Linked DNA regions of Homo sapiens. The protein of the gene in region 3 interacts with the protein of the main gene of each other region in a pairwise test. Each region holds a gene or a part of one and is shown on either strand. Other genes may lie near its edges.

Region 1 (3,649 bases), on a different chromosome or scaffold from region 3:
GAGTCCCCACTAAGGGTCCCCCAAGCCATTTCTACATCAGAGCCAGCTTCTCCCCACAATACGCAGCCCCTGCCTTCCCCACTGCCTAGCTGGGGGGCTCTGCCCACGCACCTCCCCATCACAGGGTTGCCAGGGGAGGTGAGTGACGGTCAGGGATCCTCTGTCTGGATCCACCCACATCCCTAATGAAAATAAAACAAGGCAGAGCCAACCAGTCAGTCCTTGAACCACAGCTGTGGTGCTATGAGGCCGGGTGCCCGAGGCTCGGCAAGGCCCCTGGACATGACTCATTGCGTGTGGGTGGGGGTGGGCGTGGTGAACCCCTGGGTTGGAATCACAAGGGTCGAACACGCTGGCACCCTCGACGCTTTTCCTGCCTCTGTTCAGGGTGTTTCTCTGTTCTGACCTCCTGGCTTTGGGGGTCGTGGGATATGCATGGGGTCCAGGGTGCAGAGGGTGACCACTGTTGATTGCCCCCTCTCTTAGCAGCTCCTGTGGTCCCTGAGGAGGCGGCGCCCCCAATCCTGCACCAGGGCAGTCCCCTTCTCCCCACCACCTCCTCCTGCGGTCCAGGCTCTGAGTCTGCTTCTGGAACCTGCTGGGGGCCTTCGGAAGAAGCCACGGTGTCATCCCACACCTCCCCAGCAGGCTCTGTGAGCAGCCTGTCCTGTCCCTCTCTCTGGGAGTTCCAGAAAGCAGCGGCTACCCTGATCCAGCTTTCTGGGAGCTCCAGCTCTCTTCCCAGCTTGGAAGCTGAAGACTCCCCAGACGAAGGTTTCAGCTGGCCTGGAGAGCTCTCTGCCCGACACTCCTCGGGGGAAGCTGGCCTGCCTTTGTCCTGGCGGTCAAACCAGGGTGAGCCTCGGCCAGGCAGTGCTCCTGGGGGTGGAGGATGGGTGACCTGGCAGAGGCCCCAGGGCCGCAGGGCCGGCCCCCTGCGTGGCTCCTCCTTGGACACGGCCATGGCAGAAGTTTCAGCGCCGGAGCAAAGCCCAAAGGCAGGCTGGCTACTGCCTTTCCCAGACATCCCCTCTCCAAGGTCAGGGTCAGAGCTGTCAGAGGCCTCCAGCAAAGTTTGGGAGGAGGACTGCGAGGAGGACCTGCCAGAACCCTGTACCGGGGCCAAGCCAGCCTCGGGGAGCTCCCTGCCTGCAGGTGGCTCACTGGGCCTTGGAAGCGGCGTGGAGCCCCAGGTGGCTCCTCCCTCCCCACGGTCCGGGGAGGGGCGGGAAGCTTCTGGGACCAGCGAGAGCCTGAAAGGGGGTGTCAGAAGCGGCATGGAGCCCCAGGTGGCTCTTCCGTCCCCATGGCCTGGGGAGGGGCTGGAAGCTTCTGGGACCAGCGAGAGCCTGATGGGGGTGTCAGACACAGGAGAAGCCCTCCAGGCACCCCCTGAGGCCGCCGGTGTGGTGTTCCCGCTGCAAATCTCTTCTGCCGGTGACTCGGACTCACTGCTGGTCTTTCCTTCGTGGACCTCTTTGAGTGAAGGGGCAGATTTCGGCAAAGGAGGAGAGACTTCTGGCTACCAGGAGGGAACCCGGGATGCTGACCCGAGCCCATCCACCAAGAGCAAACTCCCGTACCTCATGCCAGAGCCCGAGACCCCGGTGACCCTGCAGGCTCCTCCTGGGGACCCAGGCAGGCTGGCACCTCCAGTAGCTGAGAGCCGGGCGCCTGGGCCTGGTGGGAATGGGGCCCCCACTGTCCTGGAGGAAGCCTGTCCCCTACTTGCCGGTGACGTCTTGACTGAGATCCTGTCTCCCGTGGACGAGTTGCTGTCCTACGGCAGTGCCGACCTCCCGTCCTCCATCCACAGGGAGGCCCCCCTACCCCCACCTCCTCCCACTCCCCAAGCACAGAGTGATGGTGAAGACACCAACCCATGCTCGGATGCCTTCCCTTCCCCGCCCTCGGGGCCCCTTGAGGAGGACACCGCCATCACCACCCAGGATTTGTCCTCCTTGTCTGAGGAGAGTCTGCCGGAGGGACTGTTTCCTGGGCCCCAGGGGTCGGCGGGAACCCAGTAGTTGGGGCTCTGCCCAGGGGTGGCTGGTCCGGGTGGAAGCGTTGACGACCAGTTGGGTAGATGCAGTTCTGCAGCAGGGGATGAGGCCGGAGGCAGCCAGTGGCCTGAACCTGTCAGCTGGCCAGGGCACTCGTCGTGTGAGGGGTCAGGCAGTGCCCCTGGAGGGCTCCCAGGGCCATCAGTGCAGCCCCCAGCTCCATCCAGAGTGGCCTCTGTGGCCAGGGAAGGTCTGTCAGGGCTGTTGGCAGCTGGTGACGTGGAAGTGATGATCGGCGGACTGGGCTCCTGTTTTGGGCACAGGGTTCTGGGCTGATGTGGCCTTTGAGGAGGTCTTGGGCAGTCGGGGAGAGCCCTGGGAAGGAGCGCAGAGCTCTGGGCATGCAGAGAGCCGGGGTGGGTAGCGGGGCAGCTCTTAGTGGGTCTGGATGAGCTCCTGGACACTGCCTCACCTGCGGCAGGGTCCCTGGGCAGCCGAGCCTGCTTGGCCAAGACCCCCACCAGGGGCCAAGACCCCAAAGAAATGCTGGGTAAGAACAGGAAGGCAGCCACACCCCCACAGGCAGCCACACCTCCATGTCCCTGGTTGGCAGCCCCGGCAGCCTCTCTCCCAGGCCAAGTGCCCTTGGCCGCCAGTGGAAAGTCTGGGTCCCTTGAGCATGCTGGTGAGGACGTTGAGGGAGGCCTGAGCTGCCAGGTAGAGGACCCACCCAGGCCCGAGGGCTCACTGGGCAGAAAGCCGCTCCTGGAGACAGACTCAGGCCGCTGTACCCATCTCCCAGGTGTGGAGAGAGACCAGGCAGTGGACTTGGTCTCCACGTGGCTCACCAGGAGGGTCCTGCGTGACTCCTTAGCAGCTCTCTCCACACAGGCCCCCAGGTGCAGCCCCTAGGGAGTGTTTTCTGGAACTACAGAGGTGCACAGGCGTCCACAATGTCATTGTGAGCTGTGTGTGGCATACACATGCACACGTGGGAGTAAGAACCTAGAGGCCTGGACTTTCCCAGGGTGGACCGGCCGGGCGGCCGGCTGTGCGGGACAGTCTCCTGGACCTTTCCCCGGTGGACCGGGTGGGCGGCCGGCTGTGCAGGATGGTCGCCTGGACCTTCCCAGGGTGGACCGGGTGGGCGGCCGGCTGTGCGGGACGGTTGCCTGGACCTTCCCCCGGTGGACAGGGTGGGCGGCCGGCTGTGCGGGACGGTTGCCTGGACCTTCCCCTGGTGGACGGGGTGGGCGGCCGGCTGTGCGGGATGGTCGCCTGGACCTTCCCAGGGTGGACTGGGTGGGCGGCCGGCTCTTCCCAGGGTGGACCAGGTGGGCGGCCGGCTCCGCAGGACGGTCGCCTGGACCTTCCCGGGGTGGACTGGGTGGGCGGCCGGCTCTTCCCAGGGTGGGCCGGGTGGGCGGCCGGCTCTTCCCGGGGTGGACCGGGTGGGCGGCCGGCTCTTCCCCTGGTGGACAGGGTGGGCGCCGGCTCTGCGGGACGGTCGCCTGGACCTTCCCCTGGTGGACGGGGTGGGCGGCCGGCTGTGCGGGATGGTTGCCTGGACCTTCCCAGGGTGGACTGGGTGGGCGGCCGGCTCTTCCCAGGGTGGACCAGGTGGGCGGCCGGCTCCGCGGGACGGT
Region 2 (3,649 bases), on a different chromosome or scaffold from region 3:
TCAGAAGCAATTAATTGCTAAAAGCTTCCTTTATTCAATGTGATCATCTTTCATTCCTATGGAGGGTAACCATAAGTCATATGTTAGGTTTAAAGATACATTACTTTCAATTATATGATGTCTAAGGAAAACAGATACACAGGTTCATAACTTTAAAAGCAGAAAGAAAAAATCTTTTTTCAGATATTGCAAATAACTTGAATAAAGTTATCTGAAGTTAAAATGGCACTTATATCTATGTTTTATCAATGTGTATATGTATTATGTATATATTACATACACACATTATACTGTCTACATGTAGTAGTGTACACATACATATTACAAGATTTTTTAGAATGAATAGCTGAATAACAATGCATTCTCAGCAAACGACCTTATAATCATAAACTACCCTTCATTACATACTATTATATCTACTCTATAGGCAGAAAAACTGATGCTGAGAAGTTAAAAGATTTACAAACTAAGGTCTTAAAAGCACATTAGGAGACACCATCATTATAATGCTGAAGATCTTCACATTAATGACTTTCTGAATAGATTTTTATTGCTGTTTTTTACTTAATTACTTAATATTATCTATAAGGTATTTTTCAAACTCTATTCTTTAAAAGGTGCTACGTACTTAATGCTGAATGAGGCAACTAAAGTGAGACATGAGCTCTGTCTGTTGAATAATGGGTCCTTGCCTTTCTTTTTTTTAAACTGTGTTTCTAAAATTTGAATAAAAACTCTATTTATATGGTTCTTCTACTTAGGTGTTTAAACTTCAAAGTAAATTATCCAAATTAATCCTATTAACTTATCATAATAAATTGGATTATTCTCATTTTAGAGGTGAGAAGCCAGGCACAAGAATAGGCTATCTGCCGTGGGTCACACACTAAGTGTGAGGGAGGTCTGGAGTTAGAACATGTTATGTCCTTGGCTCCTCATTTATTTTTCAGGCTGAAAGGCAAGATTGTTCATATTAATCATCTCATTCCAAAATCACTTGAGGAAGCATGCAATTTTCTGAAGGAGAGGGGAAATCATATCCTGAAAGTTACAAGTATAAAGGAATACATCAGGAGTTTTGATTTCACTGTACTTACGTTATAATTCACTATAATTTAAGTTTTAAAAACTATTCACATATCTCATTACTGCAGTACCATGAATCACAAGCTCTATTGGCTGAGACTCTATTTGCCTAGAATTAGTCTCATGCTTTTATAGGAGAGATACAAGCTAAGAAATAAAATTAAATGAGGAAGATAAACATTGGTTCCATGTTAAAATGTATTTGATGGCATGGAATTTGCAAGACATCAATTTTCAGCCTAGCAGATTACAGAATAGGATCCATTAATCCTAGTCAACATTGAACACTTCAGAGGAACAAGAACATGACACCTGAAGGCGAGTAATGCATGGAAATACTCACGATATGTTCCTAGAAAAGCTGAAGAAGAGAATGAACTAAGTCCACAGGTTAAAACAACATTAAATAACCAGGCCTTTAGCCCCTCAAAATAGATGAAAAATATAACCAGAAACATCTTTTAACCATTGCTAAATAGCTAGAAAACTCTGTGCTCTCCAAGTAGGGTTAGGTATGTAAACAAGTGCTAACAGATTGATATAGGCTTTCTGCTTCCTATGAAAACTAAGGTTTCATGTTGAAAGCAGCATAACCAGCACATTCCTAATTACATGCATTTTTCCAGGTTCCAACGTGGCAGCAAAAGTACAAGCAAGGAAGACAAAGAGTTGTCATGCTAATGAGACATACCTCTTGTACTGAGCGAGCTGCTGGCTTGTCTTGATGATTGGCCAATATTAAAAAGGGTAAAGTGCATAACTGTGGATGCTGAAGAGCTGAGTGCAGCTCATTTCTAGCAGCTTCTAAATCATCCTCTGAAGAGGCACTGTCTAATACAAATATTACCCCTTGAGATCCTTGGTAGTAGCGGCTCCAGTATTTCCGGATGTTATCAGCCCCTGTCAAAAACAAAACAAATTTTCGTTTTAAAAAGAGCTTTCAGCAACTGAAAAATGTTCCCAACAGTAATTCCTACTGGAAACCAATGTACCTTTTAAAAATTAAGTGCTAAACTCTGTGGTATGGATTAAAACAGGAATTTAGAAAAGGCAGAAATCACAGTGGATGGGAACAAAGAAGGCAGTAGAGCCAATAGGTAGATTTGGCCTTGAAGGAAGACACAAAATCCAAGCCATTCTTAATGACTTTTATATAAAAATGTGTGTGAGAGAACCAGGATAAATACTTCCTAGACTTAAACTCAAAAGGATATTTTCAGACTTTAATCATCTCAAATGAACTACACACTCTCTAAAAATTGAGACTGAACCTGCCTCAGAGAGCTGCATGGCCTAGACATCCACCAACGCTTCTTTCCAAACCATTAACATTAGCTTGGTGATACTTTTTTAACAGAACTGCTTGCTGATCAGGACAGCCTTGTTTAATTTCACCTAGGGAGTTATTAGCACAATAGCTTTATGTGTCAAAGTGCTAAAGTTTGTGAAAAACTAAAATCATGGCCTTTGATACAATTACATGATTCTGTTTGGCTTCATAACCCATGAGGAAAAATAACAGACAACAGGTGTACACTTATGATCTCAATGAGATAAGATGTTTATTAAAACAAACAAATAAACAAACAAACAAACATATGGAGAGGCTGGGCGCGGTGGTTCACACCTGTAATCTCAGTACTTTTGGAGGCCAAGGCAGGTGAATCACCTGAGGTCAGGAGTTCAAGACCAGCCTGGCCAACATGGTGAAACCCCATCTCTACTAAAAATACAAAAATTAGCCGGGCGTGGCGGCGGGTGCCTGTAATCCCAGCTACTTGGGAAGCTAAGGCTGAGGCAGGAGGATCGCTTGAACCCGGGAGGTGGAGGTTGCAGTGAGCCAAGATCGCGCCACTGCACTCCAGCCTGGGCAACACAGCAAGGCTCCATCTCAAGAAAAAAAAAAAAAAAAGCAACACCACATGGAGAGTCTCATCAGCCAAGGCATGTCATGTAGTATTCCTCTTTGTATTTCCATTATATAGCACAACATCTAACTCAAAGTTCAGTACTGGAATAATGAAAATTGAGGGAATGAGGGAGTAAAATTATATACTAATTAAGCTTTACAAATTTGAGACTAGAACAAACTCTAGAGATGATTTAGTCCAACTCTCTGAGGAAACTGAGGCAGACAGAGGTAAAGTAAGTGATCCCTTGTCATGTATCTAATAAATCACAAAATTGGGATTTGCATGAGTTAGCAGACAACCTGCCCAGGGAAGGCATAGGCACTTCCCATTACATCATGGTGACTGTTTTCATCACTTTCATTCAAGAATAGGAGGGGCAATATGTGTGCATGTGTAGGAAAGGGGTGCTACTGGTTATATAACGACAATTAGATTTCAAGGAATTTCACCAATTTATTGCATATGATCAAGTCCTAACCAGTTAATAACTGTATTTCAGTCATCCACTGAACATCTAGCTCCTATGTTTGACATATTGTTATGTGTTAGGGAAACAGTGGGGACTGCAGTTGGTGTGCCCTGGCTGGCAAGGGTCACCTGTTTGCTTCTCTTCCCAACTCTGTGCTCAGTGACATCCTGTTGGTAGCTTG
Region 3 (3,649 bases):
TGTTACCTGGAGCTGGGAGTTGAGGTCATCTTTCTGTCCCATAAGGTCCTCGTACTCAGCCTGCTGCTGCTGCAACTCAGCTGCCAGCCCAGTGGTCTGTTCCCGGAGCATATTCAGTTCTTGGGTCTTTGCTGTTTGGATCTGGAGAAAGTAGTGGTGATGAGAAGTAGAGTGAAAGGGACCCCAGGGGCCAGGGACAGGGTATGAGCCCCCTAGTTCCAGGGAAACAGGGAGGGAGGTGGGAAGAGAACCAGGAAGAGAGAGGAAATTTCAAACAGAAAAACAATGAAGAGAATGGGTAAATGTGGTATGTTCATACAATGGAATACCACACAACAGTAAGAGAACAGATCTGTGCTGCCACGTGGATAAACTTACATAGTGCTGCCAGAAAGAAGTCAGAGACAAAGAGCAGCTGATTCCATTTATATGAAGTTAAAGAACAAGCGAAATGAATCTTATGTTGCTAGAGATCAGAATAATGGTTACTTCTGGGGGAGTACTGACTTTGAAGGGGTAAAGGGGACCTTCTGGGGTACTAAAAGTGCTTTATACTTTGATCTGGGTGGTGGCTATGGTGGCGGGGAGAGAGAGAGAAAAAAAAGAGAGAGACGAAGAGAGGATTCACTGAGTGTACACTTAAGATTAGTACATTTCATGCACTTTACTAGAGAGAAACTAGAAACAAAGAAAAGCAGAAGCCGGGCGCGGTGGCTCATGCCTGTAATCCCAGCACTCTGGGAGGCCGAGGCGGGTGGATCATGAGGTCAGGAGTTCGAGACCAGCCTGGCCAAGATGGTGAAACCCCGTCTCTACTAAAAATACAAAAATTAGCTGGGCATGGTGGCACACGGCTGTAGTCCCAGCTATTTGGGAGGGCTGAGGCAGGAGAATCGCTTGAACCTGGGAGGCGGAGGTTGCAGTGAGCCGAGATCGTGCCATAGCACTCCAGCCTGGACAACAAGACCGAAACTCCGTCTACAAAAAAAAAAAAAAGCAGAGATAGGCCAAGCACAGTGGCTCACACCTATAATCCCAGCACTTTGGAAGGCCGAGGTGGGAAGATAGCTTGAGGCCAGAAGTTTAAGCCAGTCTGGGTAACATAGTGAGACCCTGTCTCTACAAAATAATTTTGTTTTCTCTTTTTTGAGATGGAGTCTCACTCTGTCACCCAGGCTGGGGTGCAGTGGCACAATCTCGGCTCACTATAACCTCCACCTCCCAGGTTCAAGCAATTCTCCTGCCTCAGCCTCCCGAGTAGCTGGGATTACAGGTGTGCGCCACCATGCCCAGCTATTTTTTTTTGTATTTTTAGTAGAGACGGGGTTTCACCATATTGGCCAGGCTGGTCTCGAACTCCGAACCCCAGGTGATCCGCCCGTCTCAGCCTTCCAAAGTGCTGGGATTATAGGCGTGAGCCACTGCGCCTGGCCTAATTTTTGTATTTTTAGTAGAGACAAGGTTTTGCCATGTTGGCTAGGCTGGTCTCAAACTCCTGATGTCAGGTGATCCGCCCACCTCTGCCTCCCAAAGTGCTGGGATTACAGGTGTGAGCCATCATGCCCGGCCAATAAGTTTTTTTTCGTTTTGTTTTTTGTTTTTTTGAGACAGAGTTTCACTCTTGTTGCCCAGGCTTGAGTGCAATGGCACGATCTCGGCTCACCGCACACTCCACCTCCTGGGCTCAAGCAATTCTCCCACCTCAGCCTCCCGAGTAGCTTGGATTACAGGTGCCCACCACCACACCCAGCTAATTTTGTATTTTTAGTAGAGACGGGGTTTCTCTATGTTGGTCAGGCTGGTCTCGAACTCCTGACCTCAGGTGATCCGCCCTCCTCGGCCTCCCAAAGTGCTAGGATTACAGAATTGAGCCACCATGCCCGGCTTTTTTTTTTTTTTTTTTTTTAGACGGAGTCTCGCTCTGTTGCCCAGGCTGGAGTGCAATGGCACGATCTCGGCTTACTGCAACCTCCGCCTCCTGGGTTCAAGAGATTCTCCTGTCTCAGCCTCCCGAGTAGCTGGGATTACAGGCACACACCGCCACACCCAGCTAATTTTTTGTATTTTAGTAGAGATGGGGTTTCACCGTGTTGCCCAGGCTGGTCTTGAACTGAGCTCAGGCCATCCACACATCTTTGGCCTCCCAAAGTGCTAGGATTACAGGCATGAGCCACCACGCCCTTTTTTTTTTTTTTTTTTTTTTGAGACAGAGTATTGCTCTGTCGCCCAGGCTGGAGTACAGTGGTGCGATCTCGGCTCACTGAAACCTCTGCCTCCTGGGTCCTGGTTCAAGCAATTCTCCTGCCTCAGCCTCCCCAATAAAATTTTTAAAAGTTAAAAAAAAAAAAAAGTAGGGATGGATGGCCAGAGAGAAGAGGGCTGGACGCCAACAGAAAGGAGCAACAGAAACAAAGACAGGAGAACAGCATGGGGTCCAGACCACCCTACCCTGATGTGGACCAGAAGCAGATGGAGATGGGGGAACTGGAGAGGGATCAGCAAGGGCCCCCAGGTGTTCTTTACCTGCTCCAGGGCAGCCAGGCTAGTCCTCAAGGCATTGTTCTCAGCCAAAAGCCCTTCCACTTGTTCCTGTGCATCTGCACTCTGGATGGATACCTGGCCCCACGTCCACAGCAGGTGAGAGTGGGTCCAGAACAGGGGGACAGGACCTACCCACGACCAAGAAAGAAAGGACACACACACACACACACACACACACACACACACACACACACACACACACACACACGAAGGCCTGGGGGAAGCAGGATCCCTGGGACCTTGCCTGACTATGTAGTACCCACTCAGGCTGCCCCCATCCTGAACCCCAGCTCCCTGAGCCCACGCAGTACAATATACCTGATCTTGTAGGGCCCGCAAAGCTGCTGCATGTTCCAGGCGCTCCCCCTGCCGCTGATCTCTCAGCTCTGCCAAGCTCTGTGGAGACCAGGGGAGCCCATTTTACACCTCAGCCTCTCCTGGGGTGCATATAACCGTACAGACTCTCTGTTTGACCACCCAGCAGCATGTTCTCAGCACCTGTGGGTCTCAGACTATCCAGCCAACAGCAATCTCAGGTTCACCCAGACGCCAGGTCACTACCCTCAGGGGCCTCAGACACAGTCAACCCCTCTATCCCAGCGTACAAGATCTCAGGCACGACTAGACTCCTGGCCCTAGCTGCTACGCGGTTCAAACTCACTCAGCTCCCATCCATAAGAAGTCTCATGCTCACCCAGATTCTAGCTTGGGAGCTCCAGGATTCTCAGACACAGTCAGCCCCATGGATCTCAGATGTAGTCAGCACCCAAGGATGACAGTTTCACCCAGCCTCCCAATCCCAACCACCAGGGGTTTCAGACACACTCATCTCCCACGTCCCTACTTCCCAGGTGAGATCCACCCAAACTCATAGTCCCAGATCCTAGAGGTCTCAAACTCACAACCTCCTAGTTTCCAGGTCCTGGTGAACTCTCAGACTGACCCCTTCACCTGTCACTCTGCTCCCCAGTCTCTTGGAATCTTCAGACCCAGTTAACCACCAGTTCCTGGGGGTCTCAGCTTTACCCAGACTCCCGTCTCAGACCCCATGTTCCCAGTTTCTAGGGACTTCAGAACCACAAGCCACCATATCCTCCATTCCAAGGGA

Evidence for each region.
Region 1: the proteins of GRIPAP1 (region 3) and CCDC187 interact in a two-hybrid assay, tested with the Homo sapiens proteins (one large-scale study listed by BioGRID).
Region 2: the proteins of GRIPAP1 (region 3) and ARL15 interact in a two-hybrid assay, tested with the Homo sapiens proteins (one large-scale study listed by BioGRID and IntAct).

The regions. Positions count from the first base shown.
Region 1 is NC_000009.12:136,251,972-136,255,620, reverse strand, and holds part of CCDC187 (coiled-coil domain-containing protein 187), read left to right. Parts: intron 1-486; coding exon 487-2,027; 3' UTR 2,028-3,649.
Region 2 is NC_000005.10:54,111,425-54,115,073, forward strand, and holds part of ARL15 (ADP-ribosylation factor-like protein 15), read right to left. Parts: intron 1,987-3,649; coding exon 1,778-1,986; coding exon of another isoform or gene 1,691-1,777; exon of another isoform or gene 11-1,690; intron 1-10.
Region 3 is NC_000023.11:48,985,262-48,988,910, forward strand, and holds part of GRIPAP1 (GRIP1-associated protein 1), read right to left. Parts: intron 2,938-3,649; coding exon 2,860-2,937; intron 2,617-2,859; coding exon 2,524-2,616; intron 142-2,523; coding exon 7-141; intron 1-6. UniProt on the Homo sapiens protein: Regulates the endosomal recycling back to the neuronal plasma membrane, possibly by connecting early and late recycling endosomal domains and promoting segregation of recycling endosomes from early endosomal membranes.